3 separate regions of the Homo sapiens genome follow, and regions 1 and 2 are each linked to region 3. Evidence: fine-mapped expression QTL. Tissue or cell type: monocytes after Pam3CSK4. Region 3 holds a variant in brackets; each other region holds the start of a gene. All regions are shown on one strand. Distances are from middle to middle.

Region 1 (4,000 bases), 44 kb before region 3:
ACCAGCCCCACCTGTTTTATTTATTCATTTACCTAGCCATCAAACCATTATTGAAATACCTCCTGTCAGCCCACCCCTGTGCTGGGGACACAGACAGCTGCAGTCCTGCCTTCCTGGACCTCACAACACTATAGGGAGAGAGACTCATTTCCAGACAGTGACAGCCCAAATGGGGAAGCCCAGAGGACTGACAGAGCTCCCGAGCCAACTCTTAAAGGGTCAAGAAAAGAATGGGGAAAGGCATTCCAAGAATAGGGAACAGAATGTGCAAAGACCCAAGGACAAGAGAGAGTGTGATATGTTGGGGTAGTTTTTCAAGCCTCATTTTAGGTGGTGGATAGTGTGAGGAGTTAGTGGTGAGATATGAGATTGAAAAGAGGTTGGCAGGGGCCAGATCACTTGGGGCTTAACTTTCCCCTGAGAGCACTAGGGAGCTACAGATGGGTTTTGAGCAGGGGAGGGCCCTGATCATATTCATGCTTTAGAAAGACCTCTCTAGGCCTAGTGCAGTGGGTCACACATGTAATCCCAGCACTTAGGGAGGCCAAGGTTGGCGGATCACCTGAGGTCAGGAGTTTGAGACCAGCATGCCCAACATGGTGAAACCCCGTCTCTACTAAAACTACAAAAAAGTAGCTGGGTGTGGTGGCAGGTGCCTGTAATCCCAGCCACTCAGGAGGCTAAGGCAGGAGAATCACTTGAACCCAGGAGGCAGAGGTTGCAGTGAGCCAAAATCGTCCCATTGCACTCCAGCCCACGTGACAAGAGCGAGACTCTGTCTCAAAAAAAAAAAAAAAAAAAAAAAAAGCCGGGTGCAGTGGCTCATGCCTGTACTCCCAGCACTTTGGGAGGCCGAGGTGGGTGGATCACCTGAGGTCAGGAGTTCGAGACCAGACTGGCCAACATGGTGAAACCCCGTCTCTGAGCCGAGATGGAGCCATTGCACTCCAGCCTGGGTGACAGGGTGAGACTGTCTCAAAAAAAACAAAAACAAAAACAAAATAAAACCTCTCTACATGCCAAGTGAAAGGTGGAAGTGGGGGTGAGACAGAAATCTGGGAGACCAAGAGACACGGTTGATGTGGGGGTGGGGGAAGGGCTTGGGTAGAGGAGAAGCTTGGATCAGGGAGAACAAGGAACTGAGAAAGAGGAATTCCACGTGGTCGAATGCAAAAGACTTGGAGGCTGTAAGCGGGGGCAGAGTGAAGATAAATGGTACACATCTAGGAAGACACCCAGGTCTGTGGCCTGGTTGACTGAGTGGACGGCAGAGCTAGCCCTAAGGTGGGGATGCAAGAGAGGTGGAGGATTTGGTGTAAGACGTCAATTTCATTGTAGGATTCTTTTTTCTTTCTTTTTTTTTTTTTTTTAGAGAGACTGAGTCTGACTCTGTCCCCCAGGCTTTAGTGCAGTGATGTGAATTCATAGCAGTCTTGATCTCCTGGGCTCAAACGATCCTCCCACCTCAGCCTCCCAAAGTGCTGGGATTCTCGGATTCCAGGCATGAGCCACCATGCCCGAACCATTGTAGGATTTTTTTTTTTAAGTGTGAGATGCCCTTGGGACACTCTAGGGAGAAATCGTAGAGGCCATTGACTACATGAGACTAGAAAGATCTATGATGGGGCTGGGTGGCTTCAGCAGACATGGGGAGCACTGGCTATGAGTAGGAGCTGTTGGGATCAGGGGGAGACTTTGGGTTACGAGTGGATCACTGGGACACTGGGGCACCGTGGGGATCAATACAATTTGGGAATCAGAGGTAGGTTTTGGAGGACAAGTGAGGTTGTTGAAAATAAGAAAATCATGGAAATATACATTGGAGGTTGGTGGAAAATATGAAGGATGTTTGGAGTTAGCATTAATCAATAGTGGGTCAGAGGAAGTCCTCTGAGTTGTGTGGGGACACAGGGATTTGGTGGGTCACCAAGGGTGGGGAAGAATGGTAGCAGATGCTGTGGTCATTCAGGGATTTGAATATGTCAGTGGGAAACACTGGAGGTCAGGGGAGTGTATATTGGGCGTCTAAGGAGAGACCAGGGTCACTTGGGGTTGGCTGTGACTTCATGGGAAGGCTGGACTATGGATGAGGGCTTCTTTGTCGTGGGGGAAAAAAAAAAAAAAATCCCTCCGTTGCTAGGCAAACGTTCCCAGGGCGCGGTTGCTAAGGACTTGAGCTTTCTAACTGGCCACGCCTCTTTCCATTGCGGGCTCCGCCCCCGCAGCCAACCACAAGTCGGTCACAGGCTCAAAGGCCGCGCCCACCTTCTCGCCCCGCCCACAGTCCCAGCACCGTTACCCGAGCGACCGCGGGGATTCGTCCCGCCTCCGGATCTGGGTGCCAATCGAAGAGGCGTTGCCCGGGCGACGACCCCACCTTTTCCGGCGCGGGCCAGCGGCTTCCGGGAGGGGGCCCGGCTGCGGGCGGCAGTCCGGCAGTGGCGGGGCCCGGGGGGCGCCCAAGATGGCGGCGGGCGGCGCGGAGGGCGGCTCGGGCCCCGGCGCCGCCATGGGGGACTGCGCGGAGATTAAGTCGCAATTCCGCACGCGCGAGGGTTTCTACAAGCTACTCCCGGGCGACGGCGCCGCTCGCAGGTCGGGTCCGGCTTCCGCCCAGACTCCGGTGCCGCCTCAGCCACCGCAGCCCCCGCCCGGCCCTGCCTCCGCCTCCGGTCCCGGCGCTGCAGGCCCCGCGTCGTCCCCGCCGCCCGCAGGCCCCGGACCCGGGCCCGCCCTGCCCGCCGTGCGCCTCAGCCTCGTGCGCCTCGGGGAGCCGGACAGCGCCGGGGCCGGGGAGCCGCCCGCCACGCCCGCGGGGCTGGGCTCGGGGGGAGACCGCGTCTGCTTCAACTTGGGCCGTGAGCTCTATTTCTACCCAGGCTGCTGTCGTCGTGGGAGCCAACGGGTGAGCGGCCTGCATCGTGGGGCCCTGGGTGCTGAAAGGATGGAGGTTCCAGAGAACTGATAGGAGGGTCCCCGAATTGATATGGGGCCCTGAGATAGGCATTCTAAATGTGATGGACGTTGTAGGGCGACAGCATTGGAGGGAGTACAGGATTCTGAAATGTGATGAGAGGCCCGCGGGGTGCTGGGCAGGCATCTTGGAGGTGATGGGGGAAATCCCCTTTACCCCCGTTATGCGTAGGAGTTCTGGGATGGTGACTATTGGACATGATGGGGTATCTGAGATGAGGTGGGATCCCCCGGGTTCTGGGGTGGCAGGCATTCTGCAGGTAATGGGGAATCATGAGGTGATGCAAGCCCAGAGGTGATGGAGAACCCAGTATTGCAGCCTGGAGGTGTGGGAGAGGGGTCTTGAGATTGAGCCCAGGAATGAGGAGAAGTCTAGAAGTGATGGGGGCCTTGAAGGTGATAGGGGATCCAGAAGCTGAATGGGATTCTAGAGAAAATTGGGGTCTGGAAGTCATGAGGGTCCTGGAGGAGATGAGCGTCCGGAAGCTGATGGGAGCTCTCAAGGGAATGAGAGGCCCTGGCAGGGGAATCTGCAGGTGTGATTCAGGACATCTCTAAAGCGATGTGGTGAGAACCCTGGCCGTTTATGGTGATCCCAGAAATGATGGGGATCCTTCGGAGCCCCTAGGTAATAAATGGGCCTAAAATGTGGGAGACCGTGAGGTTTGACGGGTCCCAGAACTGTGGCGGTTTAGGGACTACAAAGTGAAGAGAATGCTAGGATGTTAGGCTTTAGAGTCCTGGAAATTTGGGTGACCTCAAGGTTTGGGGGTCTTGGAATAGTGTGGTACTAGGTCCCAAGGGAGTTGCTGAGGTTATAGGATGGAGTGGTGAGGCTAAAAGGAATCGGAGCTTAGGAACTGTGTGGACCCAGAACCCTGATTATGTGGACAAGGGTGTCTCTGAATTAGAGGTGACCCAACTTTGGGGAGGCACTGTGGTCAAGGGGGATCCTTACCATCTTTTTTGCTACTCTTGTCTGTGATTTGGGTCCCCTTCCCGTCTGTGGTTGCCCCGTCCTTCGCAA
Region 2 (4,000 bases), 33 kb before region 3:
CCCGGACACGGGCGATGTAATAGCCCTTGTGGCCTCAGCCTTGTCCCCCACCCACTGCCAAGTACAATGACCTCTTCCTCTGAAACATCAGTGTTACCCTCATCCCTGTCCCCAGCATGTGACTGGTCACTCCTGGGGAGAGACTCCCCGCCCCTGCCACAAGAGCCCCAGGTCTGCAGTGTGCCCCTCAGTTGAGTGGGCAGGGCCGGGGGTGGTCCAGCCCTCGCCCGGCCCCCACCCCAGCTGCCCTTGCTATTGTCTGTGCTTTTGAAGAGTGTTAAATTATGGAAGCCCCTCAGGTTCCTCCCTGTCCCGCAGGACCTCTTATTTATACTAAAGTTCCCTGTTTTCTCAGCGGGTCTGTCCCCTTCGGAGGAGATGATGTAGAGGACCTGTGTGTGTACTCTGTGGTTCTAGGCAGTCCGCTTTCCCCAGAGGAGGAGTGCAGGCCTGCTCCCAGCCCAGCGCCTCCCACCCCTTTTCATAGCAGGAAAAGCCGGAGCCCAGGGAGGGAACGGACCTGCGAGTCACACAACTGGTGACCCACACCAGCGGCTGGAGCAGGACCCTCTTGGGGAGAAGAGCATCCTGCCCGCAGCCAGGGCCCCTCATCAAAGTCCTCGGTGTTTTTTAAATTATCAGAACTGCCCAGGACCACGTTTCCCAGGCCCTGCCCAGCTGGGACTCCTCGGTCCTTGCCTCCTAGTTTCTCAGGCCTGGCCCTCTCAAGGCCCAGGCACCCCAGGCCGGTTGGAGGCCCCGACTTCCACTCTGGAGAACCGTCCACCCTGGAAAGAAGAGCTCAGATTCCTCTTGGCTCTCGGAGCCGCAGGGAGTGTGTCTTCCCGCGCCACCCTCCACCCCCCGAAATGTTTCTGTTTCTAATCCCAGCCTGGGCAGGAATGTGGCTCCCCGGCCAGGGGCCAAGGAGCTATTTTGGGGTCTCGTTTGCCCAGGGAGGGCTTGGCTCCACCACTTTCCTCCCCCAGCCTTTGGGCAGCAGGTCACCCCTGTTCAGGCTCTGAGGGTGCCCCCTCCTGGTCCTGTCCTCACCACCCCTTCCCCACCTCCTGGGAAAAAAAAAAAAAAAAAAAAAAAAAGCTGGTATAAAGCAGAGAGCCTGAGGGCTAAATTTAACTGTCCGAGTCGGAATCCATCTCTGAGTCACCCAAGAAGCTGCCCTGGCCTCCCGTCCCCTTCCCAGGCCTCAACCCCTTTCTCCCACCCAGCCCCAACCCCCAGCCCTCACCCCCTAGCCCCCAGTTCTGGAGCTTGTCGGGAGCAAGGGGGTGGTTGCTACTGGGTCACTCAGCCTCAATTGGCCCTGTTTCAGCAATGGGCAGGTTCTTCTTGAAATTCATCACACCTGTGGCTTCCTCTGTGCTCTACCTTTTTATTGGGGTGACAGTGTGACAGCTGAGATTCTCCATGCATTCCCCCTACTCTAGCACTGAAGGGTTCTGAAGGGCCCTGGAAGGAGGGAGCTTGGGGGGCTGGCTTGTGAGGGGTTAAGGCTGGGAGGCGGGAGGGGGGCTGGACCAAGGGGTGGGGAGAAGGGGAGGAGGCCTCGGCCGGCCGCAGAGAGAAGTGGCCAGAGAGGCCCAGGGGACAGCCAGGGACAGGCAGACATGCAGCCAGGGCTCCAGGGCCTGGACAGGGGCTGCCAGGCCCTGTGACAGGAGGACCCCGAGCCCCCGGCCCGGGGAGGGGCCATGGTGCTGCCTGTCCAACATGTCAGCCGAGGTGCGGCTGAGGCGGCTCCAGCAGCTGGTGTTGGACCCGGGCTTCCTGGGGCTGGAGCCCCTGCTCGACCTTCTCCTGGGCGTCCACCAGGAGCTGGGCGCCTCCGAACTGGCCCAGGACAAGTACGTGGCCGACTTCTTGCAGTGGGGTGAGTGCCTACCCTCGGGGCTCCTGCAGATGGGGTGGGGGTGGGGCAGGAGACAGGTCTGGGCACAGAGGCCTGGCTGTTGGGGGGGCAGGATGGCAGGATGGGCATGGGGAGATCCTCCCATCCTGGGGCTCAGAGTGTGGACCTGGGCCCTGGGGCAACATTTCTCTGTCCTATGCCACCACTCTGGAGGGGCAGAGTAAGGTCAGCAGAGGCTAGGGTGGCTGTGACTCAGAGCCATGGCTTAGGAGTCACAGCAGGCTAGGCTGCCAACAGCCTCCCATGGCCTCTCTGCACCCCGCCTCAGGGTCAGGGTCAGGGTCATGCTGGGAGCTCCCTCTCCTAGGACCCTCCCCCCAAAAGTGGGCTCTATGGCCCTCTCCCCTGGTTTCCTGTGGCCTGGGGCAAGCCAGGAGGGCCAGCATGGGGCAGCTGCCAGGGGCGCAGCCGACAGGCAGGTGTTCGGCGCCAGCCTCTCCAGCTGCCCCAACAGGTGCCCAGGCACTGGGAGGGCGGTGACTCACGCGGGCCCTGTGGGAGAACCAGCTTTGCAGACAGGCGCCACCAGTGCCCCCTCCTCTGCGATCCAGGAGGGACAACTTTGGGTTCTTCTGGGTGTGTCTCCTTCTTTTGTAGGTTCTGCACCCACCCCCACCCCCAGCCCCAAAGTCTCGGTTCCTATGAGCCGTGTGGGTCAGCCACCATTCCCGCCACCCCGGGTCCCTGCGTCCTTTAGTTCTCCTGGCCCAGGGCCTCCAACCTTCCAGCTGTCCCACAAAACCCCTTCTTGCAAGGGCTTTCCAGGGCCTGGGGCCAGGGCTGGAAGGAGGATGCTTCCGCTTCTGCCAGCTGCCTTGTCTGCCCACCTCCTCCCCAAGCCCAGGACTCGGGCTCACTGGTCACTGGTTTCTTTCATTCCCAGCACCCTGCCCCTCTGGCCCTCATATGTCTGGCCCTCAGTGACTGGTGTTTGGTTTTTGGCCTGTGTGTAACAAACTGTGTGTGACACTTGTTTCCTGTTTCTCCGCCTTCCCCTGCTTCCTCTTGTGTCCATCTCTTTCTGACCCAGGCCTGGTTCCTTTCCCTCCTCCTCCCATTTCACAGATGGGAAGGTGGAGGCCAAGAAGGGCCAGGCCATTCAGCCTCTGGAAAAACCTTCTCCCAACCTCCCACAGCCCCTAATGACTCTCCTGGCCTCCCTTTAGTAGAGGATGAAGTTGGGTTGGCAGGGTAAACTGAGACCGGGTGGGGTAGGGGTCTGGCGCTCCCGGGAGGAGCACTCCTTTTGTGGCCCGAGCTGCATCTCGCGGCCCCTCCCCTGCCAGGCCTGGGGCGGGGGAGGGGGCCAGGGTTCCTGCTGCCTTAAAAGGGCTCAATGTCTTGGCTCTCTCCTCCCTCCCCCGTCCTCAGCCCTGGCTGGTTCGTCCCTGCTGGCCCACTCTCCCGGAACCCCCCGGAACCCCTCTCTTTCCTCCAGAACCCACTGTCTCCTCTCCTTCCCTCCCCTCCCATACCCATCCCTCTCTCCATCCTGCCTCCACTTCTTCCACCCCCGGGAGTCCAGGCCTCCCTGTCCCCACAGTCCCTGAGCCACAAGCCTCCACCCCAGCTGGTCCCCCACCCAGGCTGCCCAGTTTAACATTCCTAGTCATAGGACCTTGACTTCTGAGAGGCCTGATTGTCATCTGTAAATAAGGGGTAGGACTAAAGCACTCCTCCTGGAGGACTGAGAGATGGGCTGGACCGGAGCACTTGAGTCTGGGATATGTGACCATGCTACCTTTGTCTCCCTGTCCTGTTCCTTCCCCCAGCCCCAAATCCAGGGTTTTCCAAAGTGTGGTTCAAGAACCACCTGCATCTGAATCTAGAGGTACTGGATACAACCCCACGTCTGGGCCGTTACCCAGGACATTCTACATGAGAACGTGGGGGTGGGGCCCTGGCTGCACCTGAACTGTCACCTGGAGTCAGGGTGGAAGGTGGAAGAACTGGGTCTTATTTCCTTCTCCCCTTGTTCTTTAGGGTCTGTCCTTCTGCAGACTCCGTTACCCCACCCTAACCATCCTGCACACCCTTGGAGCCCTCTGGGCCAATGCCCTGTCCCGCAAA
Region 3 (7,948 bases):
AAATTTCGCCACTTCACTCCAGCCTGGGCGAAAAGAGCGAGACTCCGCCTCAGAAAAAAAAAAAAAAAAAAAGAAGAAGAAACTATCTGAGTAAGAGCTTGCAGGCATGAGAAGACACGCGCGGGGTGTCTGGGGACAGGCAAGTCATTGGGTGTGATTGGAGGTCTGCGTGGCATGGAGATGATGTGTGTGGGCTCTGAGCCAGGCCCTGACTCAGGCTCATCTCTGTGACCTTAACCTCTCTGGGCTTCAGTTCCATCACCTGCAAAACAGGACCACATTAGCTTTTCCCTTCGGTATTTGTCCTGACGATTAAATGTGAGTTAATACATAGAAACAAGTCAGGCTTGGTGGCCCACTCCTATAATCCCAGCACTTTGGGAGGCCAAGGCGGGAGAATTGCTTAAGCCCAGGGGTTTAAGACCAGCTTGGGCAACACAGTGAGACTCTGTCTCTACAAAAAAACAAACAAAAATATTAGCCAGAGCCAGGCACGATGGCTCACATCTGTCATCCCAGCACTTTAGGAGGCTGAGATGGGTGGATCACTTGAGGTGATACCAGCTTGGCGACCACGGCAAAATCCTGTCTCTACTAAAAATATAAAAATTAGCTGGGTGTGGTGGCGGGCGCCTGTAGTCCCAGCTACTTGGGAGGCTGAGGCAGGAGAATGGCTTGAACCTGGGAGGCAGAGCTTGCAGTGAGCTGAGATCACGCCACTGCACTCTAGTCTGGGCGACAGAGAGAAACTCCATCTCAAAAAAAAGAAAATTATCTGGATATTGGTGGCACGTGCCTGTAGTACAAGCTGCTTAGAAGTCTGCGGCAGGAGGATTGCTTGACCCCTGGAGTTTTGAGTCCTGGGATTTTGAGGTTACAGTGAGCCATGATCATGCCACTGCATTCCAGCCTGGGTGACAGAGTGAGACCTTGTCTCAAAAAAAAAAAAAAAAAAAAACGGCTAGGAGCAGGGGCTCACAGCTGTAATCCCAGCACTTTGGGAGGCCAAGGTGGGTGGATCACCTGAGGTCAGGAGTTTGAGACCAGCCTGGCCAATATGGTGAAACACCGTCTCTACTAAAAATACAAAAAAATTAGCTGGGTGTGGTGGTGAGTGCCTGTAATCCTACCTACTCGGGAGGCTGAGGCAGGAGAATCACTTGAACTTGGAAGGCAGAGGTTGCGGTGAGCCAAGATCACGCCACTGCACTCCAGCCTGCGCAACAAGAGCTAAACTCTGCCTCAAAAAAAAAAAAAGAAAGAAAGAAACATACCACAGCACCTGGAACATAGCAGTCCCCTAAGGCTAGATGTGCTGGGTGCTGTCGCTGTTACTGTAGTGTAAAATATACTGGCAGAGGCCCGGGAGGCAGAGGTCGCAGTGAGCAGAGATCACGCCACTGCACTCCAGCCTGGGTGACAGAGTGATACTCCGTCTCAAAAAACACACAAAAAACAAAAAACAAAACAAAACAAAAAGCACAAATAAATAAATAAAATACGCTGGCAGAATGGTAGGAGATGAGGCTGGGGAGGTTTGGCAGGGACTAGGAAGGCAGGGATGAGATCCCAAATGGTTTCCAGCACCTGGCTATGGAGGGAAGTGAAGAAGATGAAAATTACTGAGGGATTTTATGCCAGGGGAAGGTCATGATCAGATTTATTTTATTTTATGTATATATTATTATTATTATTATTATTATTATTATTATTATTATTTGAGACACAGTCTTGCTCTGTTGCCCAGGCTAGGGTGCAGTGGCGTGATCTCGGCTCACAGCAACCTCCGCCTCCCAGGTTCAAGTGATTCTCCTGCCTCAACCTCCCAAGTAGCTGGGATTACAGGCGCCAGCCACCACACCAGCTAATTTTTGTATTTTTAGTAGAGACGGGGTTTTGCCATGTTGGCCAGGCTGGTCTCGAACTCCTGACCTCAAGCGATCCGCCCGCCTCGGCCTCCCAAAGTGCCGGGAGTACAGGCATCAGCCACTGTGCCCGGCCTGTTTCTTCTGCCTGGCTGGGCTTCCCTGCATCTCCTACAGTCCTGAAGGCCCAGCTCCAAGGCCCCTCTTCTCTGAGGCATCTTGCATATCTCTCTTTGTCCCCTATACCAGGCCTTGACAGAAGGGTCACTCAGTATCCCTGATGGCTGGAACAACACTTGGAACATCACAGGCACCAGGAAACACTGGCTGAACTACTTACCCGCAAGTCCACCTTCCCCAGTGGTGATGTGGCATTTGAACAAGGCCTTGGCGGCATCGATGTTTCTCTGGAGGTACTGAATGTACTGCAGGACATGCACCAGAATCTCCTTCTGCCTCAAAAGAAAGACAGGGTTGGCCAGGCTCACGCCTGTAATCACAGCACTTTGAGAAGCCGAGGTGGGCGGATCATGAGGTCAGGAGTTCGAGACCAGCCTGGCCAGCATGGTGAAACCCCGTCTCTACTAAAAATACAAAAAATTAGCTGGGTGTGGTGGCACATGCCTGTAATGCCAGCTACTTGAGAGGCTGAGGCAGGAGAATTGCTTGAACCCGTGAGGCGGAGGTTGCAGTGAGCCAAGATCACGCCGTTGCACTCCAGCCTGGGCAACATAGCGAGACTCTGTCTCAAAAAAAAAAAAAAAAAGAAAAAGAAAAAGAAAGAAAGAAAGACAGGGTTGAGCACAACAGCCAGGGCTCAAGACAATGTGGGGCTGCTGGGGACCAGAGACACAGCCTGAAGCAAAGGTTGCAGTGAGCTGAGATCATGCCACTGCACTCCAGCCTGTAGCTGTAGCCCCTGTCTCACTGGTCTGCAGTGAGGGCTAGATAGCAGAACAAGAAGGTCTCTGCCGACTGAAGAATTGTTGGGGTGGGTGGGGAATGGGGTCCTTCCTGGAGCCTCTGTGTCTCTGGTCCCCAGCAGCCCCACGTTGTCTTGAGCCCTGGCTGTTGTGCTCAACCCTGTCTTTCTTTCTTTTTCTTTTTCTTTTTTTTTTTTTTTGAGACAGAGTCTTGCTATGTTGCCCAGGCTGGAGTGCAATGGCACGATCTCAGCTCACTGCAACTTCTGCCTGCCAGGTTCAAGCAATTCTCCTGCCTCAGCCTCCTGAGTAGCTGGGACTAGAGGTGCGTGCCACCAGGCCCAGCTAATGTTTTGTATTTTTAGTAGAGACGGGGTTTCACCATGCTGGCTAGGCTGGTCACGAACTCCTGACCTTGTGATCTGCCCGCCTTGGTCTCCCAAAGTTCTGGGATTCCAGGTGTGAGCCACCACGCCCGGCCAATAGTCTTTTTTTGTTTTTTTTTTTTGCGCTTTTTTTTTTTTTTTTTTTTGAGACAGAATCTTGTTCTGTCGCCCAGGATGGAGTGCAGTGGCGCAATCTTGGCTCACTGCAAGCTCCGCCTCCCGGGTTCATGCCATTCTCCTGCCTCAGCGAGTAGCTGGGACTACAGGCGCCCTCCACCACGCCTCGCTAATTTTTTTGTATTTTTTAGTAGAGACGGGGTTTCACCATGTTAGCCAGAATGGTCTCAATCTCCTGACTTCATGATCCGCCCACCTCAGCCTCCCAAAATGCTGGGATTACAGGCGTGAGCCACTGCGCTCGGCCTTTTTTTTTTTTTTTTTTTT[G/TG]AGACAGGGTCTCTTGCTCTGTTGGCCAGGCTGGAGTTTAGTGGTACCATCTCAGCTCACTTCAACCTCCACCTCCTAGGCTCGAGCAATCCTCCTGTCTCAGCCCCACAAGTAGCTGGGACTACAGGCGCATGCCACCATGCCCAGCTAATTTTTTGTATTTTTTATCGAGATGAGGTTTCGCCATGTTGTTCAGGCTGGTCTCAAACTCCTGGGCTCAAGTGATCCACCCGCCTTGGCCTCCCAAAGTGCTGGGATTACAGGCATGAGCCACCACACCTGGCCTCAGTCTTTTTTTTTTTTTTGAGAGGGAGTCTCGGTCTGTTGCCCAGTCTGAAGTGCAGTGGTACGATCTCAGCTCACTGCAGCCTCTGACTCCCAGGTTCAAGCGATTCTCCCACCTCAACCTCCTGAGTAGCAGGGGCTACAGGAATGTGCCACCACGCTTGGCTAATTTTTGTATTTTTAGTAGAGACAAGGTTTCACCATGTTGGCCAGGTTGGTCTCGAACTACCGACCTCAAGTGATCCACCCACCTCGGCCTCCCAAAGTGCTGGGATTACATGTGTGAGCCACTGCACCCAGCCAGCCTCAGTCTTTTTAAGCTTATTATCTCTAATACCAGGCTTGGAGCATATGGTTGGCACTCGCTAAGAAAAAGTCCTTATAAACCATGAAGTAATATATAAATGTTACTTATTATTACTAGTATAAAGGTTGTATGTAGAAAGCAATTGGGCATCATCCCAGATTTCAAGACAGATGCCTCAGTAATTGAAACTTCAGGAAGGTTAGCTTGGGGGCTACACCAGAGTCTGGACTCTCAAAGACCTTCTGAAGGTAAGATCAACAGGTCCTGTAACTGTCCCAACAAAGGGAGCTCATTCAGTCATTCAACAAACATCTATTGAACCTTGAGTGACAGAATGGTTGAAGGCAAGAGCCTTTGGAGTGAGATACATCTGACTCTATTTCTTTTAAGATGGGGTCTCATGGCCAGGCGCGGTGGCTCACGCCTGTAATCCCAGCACTTTCAGAGCCCGAGGCGGGTGGATCACGAAGTCAGGAGATCGAGGTCATCCTGGCTAACACGGTGAAACCCTGTCTTTACTAAAAATACAAAAACTAATTGGCCGGGCGTGGTGGCGGGCACCTGTAGTCCCAGCCACTCAGGAGGCTGAGGCAGGAGAATGGCGTGAACCCAGGAGGCAGAGCTTGCAGTGAGCCGAGATGGTGCCACTGCACTCCAGCCTGGGGTACAGAGCGGGACTCCGTCTCAAAAAAAAAAAAAAGACAGGGTCTTACTCTGTTGCTCAGGCTGGAGTGCAGTGGTATGATCTCGACTCATTGCAACCTCCACTTCCCAGGCTCAAGCTATCCTCCTGCTTCAGCCTCCTGGGTAGCGGGGACCATGGCTGGCTAATTTTTGTATTTTTTGTAGAGATGGACTTTCGTCACATTGCCCAGGCTGGTCTCGAACTCCTAATCTCAAGCAATCTGCCTGCTTCAGCCTCCCAAAGTGCTGGTATTACAGGTGTGAGCCACTGTGCCTGGCCACATCTGAATCCCTCCCTCTCTCTTTCTCTCTGTCTCTCTTTCTATCTCAACTCTGTGCCTGTGGGCGATGTGACCATTCTCTGCACTTCAGTTTCCTCAGACCAAAGAATGAGCATAGCCATACATCTCTCACAAGCCTTGTGGGAGAGTTAAATGAGAAAAATGTATCTAAGACACTTAGCACTCAAGGTCTGACACCTGGAACGCTCAGTAAGTTGGGAACGGTTGTTACTGCTGTCTGCTGTCTGCTCTCTGCTCTTGCTAGGCCCTGTGGGCAAGGCGGACAGAGATGTCTCCTTTATGGCTCTGGCAGAACTCCACCTGAAGGAGGTCGGAAACAAGGAAGTAATTGCAGTGATACGCTGGGGGTGTTCATGGTCAGAGGGAGAACCTACATGATCAGACGGGGCAGGGGGCAATTCACCAGCCAGAGTGGTGAGGAAGGACACTCTGAATCAAAGCTGCACCCCAAGTCTCTAACACAGGAGAGGCAATTCTCACAGCTCCTGCTATGGCGCGGAGCACTGGACTGAGCATGTCCCACGGCCCCGGGATGCGGGTTGTCTGTGGAGCAGGACCCCATGATGCAGCTGAGGGAAGGATGAAGAGGTGGGAGAAGAGGGGTTCTGAAGACAGCAGAGGACACATGGTAAATAAGTAGGCTGAGGCCTGGGGAGAATTCCAAGAGATGTGGCCATCCGGTCATTTATGAAACGTTGCCAGTCCCCTGACAAGACTGCCATTCCTCGAGGGGAGGGACTGTGTCATAGTCATCTCTGGCTCCCCAAGGGCTATTCCAGCACCTATGCATGCCAAAAACTCACATTCCTCAAATATTTTTAGCACCATCGTGGACTGTATAATGCATCCCCCCAAAGTTCCAAAGATGTCCATGTCCTAGTCCCCAGAACCTATGAATATGTTGCCTTGTATGGCAGAAAGAAAGGACTTTGCAGATATGATTGAGTTAAGGATCTTTTTTTTTTTTTTTCTTTTGAGACAGAGTCTTGCTCTGTTGCCTAGGCTGGGGTGCAATGGCGCGATCTCGGATCACTGCAACCTCTGCCTCCCAGGTTCAAGCAAATCTCCCGCCTCAGCCTCCTGAGTAGCTGGGATTATAGGCACGCGCCACCACTCCTGGCTAATTGGTTGTATTTTTAGTAGAGACGGGGTTTCACCATGTTGGCCAGGCTGGTCTCAAACTCCTGACCTCAGGTGATCCACCCACCTCGGCCTCCCAAACTACTGAGCCCGCTGTGTTAAGGATCTTGAGATGGCCTGATTATTCCTGTTTATCTGGGTGGGCCCAGTGTAATCACATATAATCTTACAGAGGTAGGAATGTCAAAGGCAGGGAAGGCAATGTGACAACAGAAGCGGTAGGACAGGAAAGACATTTGAAGATGCTTCCATGCTGGCTTTGAGGGACCATGATGGGTCAAGGAATGCAGGCAGCCCCCAGAAGTTGGCAAAAAGAAAGGAAACAAACTCTCTAGAGCTTCTAAGAGGAACCAACCCTGCTGACAACTTGACTTTAAACCAGTGAGACTGGCTGGGTGCAGTGGCTTATGCCTGTAATCCCCGAACTTTGGGAGGCCAAGGTGGGAGGATCACTTGAGGTCAGGAGTTTGAGACTAGCCTGGGCAACATGGTAAAACCTCGTCTCTACCAAAACTACAAAAAATTAGCCAGGTGTGGCATGAGCCTGTAGTCTCAGCTACTCGGGAGGCTGAGGTGGGAGGATTGCTTGAGCCTGGGAAGCAGAGGCTGCAGTGAGCTGAGGTCGAGCCACTACACTGTAGCCTGGGTGAGACAGTGAGATCCTGTCTCAAAAACAAAACAAAACAAAACAAAACCTAAAAACCCCAAAACAACCAAACAAGTGAAAAAGCCACTGAGACTGATATTGGACTTCTGAACTCCAGAACCATAAGAGAATAAATTTGGCTGGCCACAGTGGCTAACGCCTGTAATCCCAGCACTTTCGGAGGCCAAGGCGGATGGATCGCCTGAGGTCAGGAATTTGAGACCGGCCTGACCAATATGGTGAAACCCTGTCTCTACTAAAAATACAAAAAAACTATTAGCCGGGTGTGGTGGCCTGTGCCTGTAGTCCCAGCTACTCAGGACTCTCAAAAACAAAAAAGAACAAAGAAAAAAAGAAAGTCTGGGTAGCCTGAGAAACTGCCCAGAGTTCTGTAGCTGTGAAGCTAGAGGGCTCAAACCCATGGCTATTTGATTCCTGGAACAATGATCTTTGTGCTATCTCTATTTCCCCAGCCCGGTTTCTCCTCTCTCCTTTGCAAAAAAGGATCCTCCAGGCACCTAGTTATGGGATCACAGACTCCCGGAAATTCCCGTTCAGAGTAGCACCATTCCCATTTGAATGCTGCCACTGAAAGGATCTGTCCAGGTTTCCCAGGAGAGGGTGACCCATTTGCTGCTATTTAAAGACCTGCGTCCCAAATCTGGCCCCTCTCCTCTAGTCCCTGTACCTTTGTGAGCTTCTTGGTCCCCGTCTTCAGGGCTATGGGCAGCAGCAGTGCCAACTCTTGCAGCTTGCTAGTGTGGTTTTTCCTCTGCTTCTTGTTTGGGGACAGGAGCTTGTTTTGGTTCCTCTGATTCCTGTTTGGGGACAGGAGCTGGTTTTGGTTAGGACATCCAAAACGAATTCCACATCCAACCCGCAAACCTCCTGTCTGTGTTACTCATTTTAGGGCTGCCCGCACCCCACCCTGGACACCGAGGACAGAATCCCAGGCATCACCCGTAC

Direction of the effects. Alleles are on the strand shown, and positions count from the first base shown. SD is a standard deviation of normalised expression in the study named.
In carriers of allele G in region 3, the expression in monocytes after Pam3CSK4 of the gene that starts at base 2,376 in region 1 tends to be lower than with TG alone (moderate effect, 0.56 SD a copy in Quach 2016).
In carriers of allele G in region 3, the expression in monocytes after Pam3CSK4 of the gene that starts at base 1,594 in region 2 tends to be lower than with TG alone (moderate effect, 0.67 SD a copy in Quach 2016).

What was found. PIP is the estimated chance that this variant, and not a neighbour inherited with it, causes the effect.
Region 1: DMWD starts here. The variant in region 3 is fine-mapped to the expression of DMWD in monocytes after Pam3CSK4 (Quach 2016, PIP 0.95).
Region 2: it holds the start of DMPK, and the variant in region 3 is fine-mapped to the expression of DMPK in monocytes after Pam3CSK4 (Quach 2016, PIP 0.95).

What each region holds. Positions count from the first base shown.
Region 1 is chr19:45,791,221-45,795,220 of GRCh38, reverse strand. It overlaps DMWD (DM1 locus, WD repeat containing), which reads left to right and starts at 2,376. Exons shown (of 5, transcript NM_004943.2): 1 at 2,376-2,905. The coding sequence starts at 2,465. RefSeq lists a silencer at 2,248-2,727 and enhancers at 3,876-3,925, 3,946-4,000.
Region 2 is chr19:45,780,084-45,784,083 of GRCh38, reverse strand. It overlaps DMPK (DM1 protein kinase), which reads left to right and starts at 1,594. Exons shown (of 15, transcript NM_004409.5): 1 at 1,594-1,891. The coding sequence starts at 1,732. It overlaps DMWD (DM1 locus, WD repeat containing), which reads left to right. Exons shown (of 5, transcript NM_004943.2): 5 at 1-1,137.
Region 3 is chr19:45,745,044-45,752,991 of GRCh38, reverse strand. MEIOSIN (meiosis initiator) reads right to left here. Exons shown (of 15, transcript NM_001310124.2): 4 at 7,671-7,800; 5 at 2,206-2,317. Among named protein-coding and RNA genes, the nearest start is that of MEIOSIN, 16 kb to the right of the region's middle. RefSeq lists an enhancer at 4,623-5,415. The variant G/TG (reference allele first, on the strand shown) is at 3,619.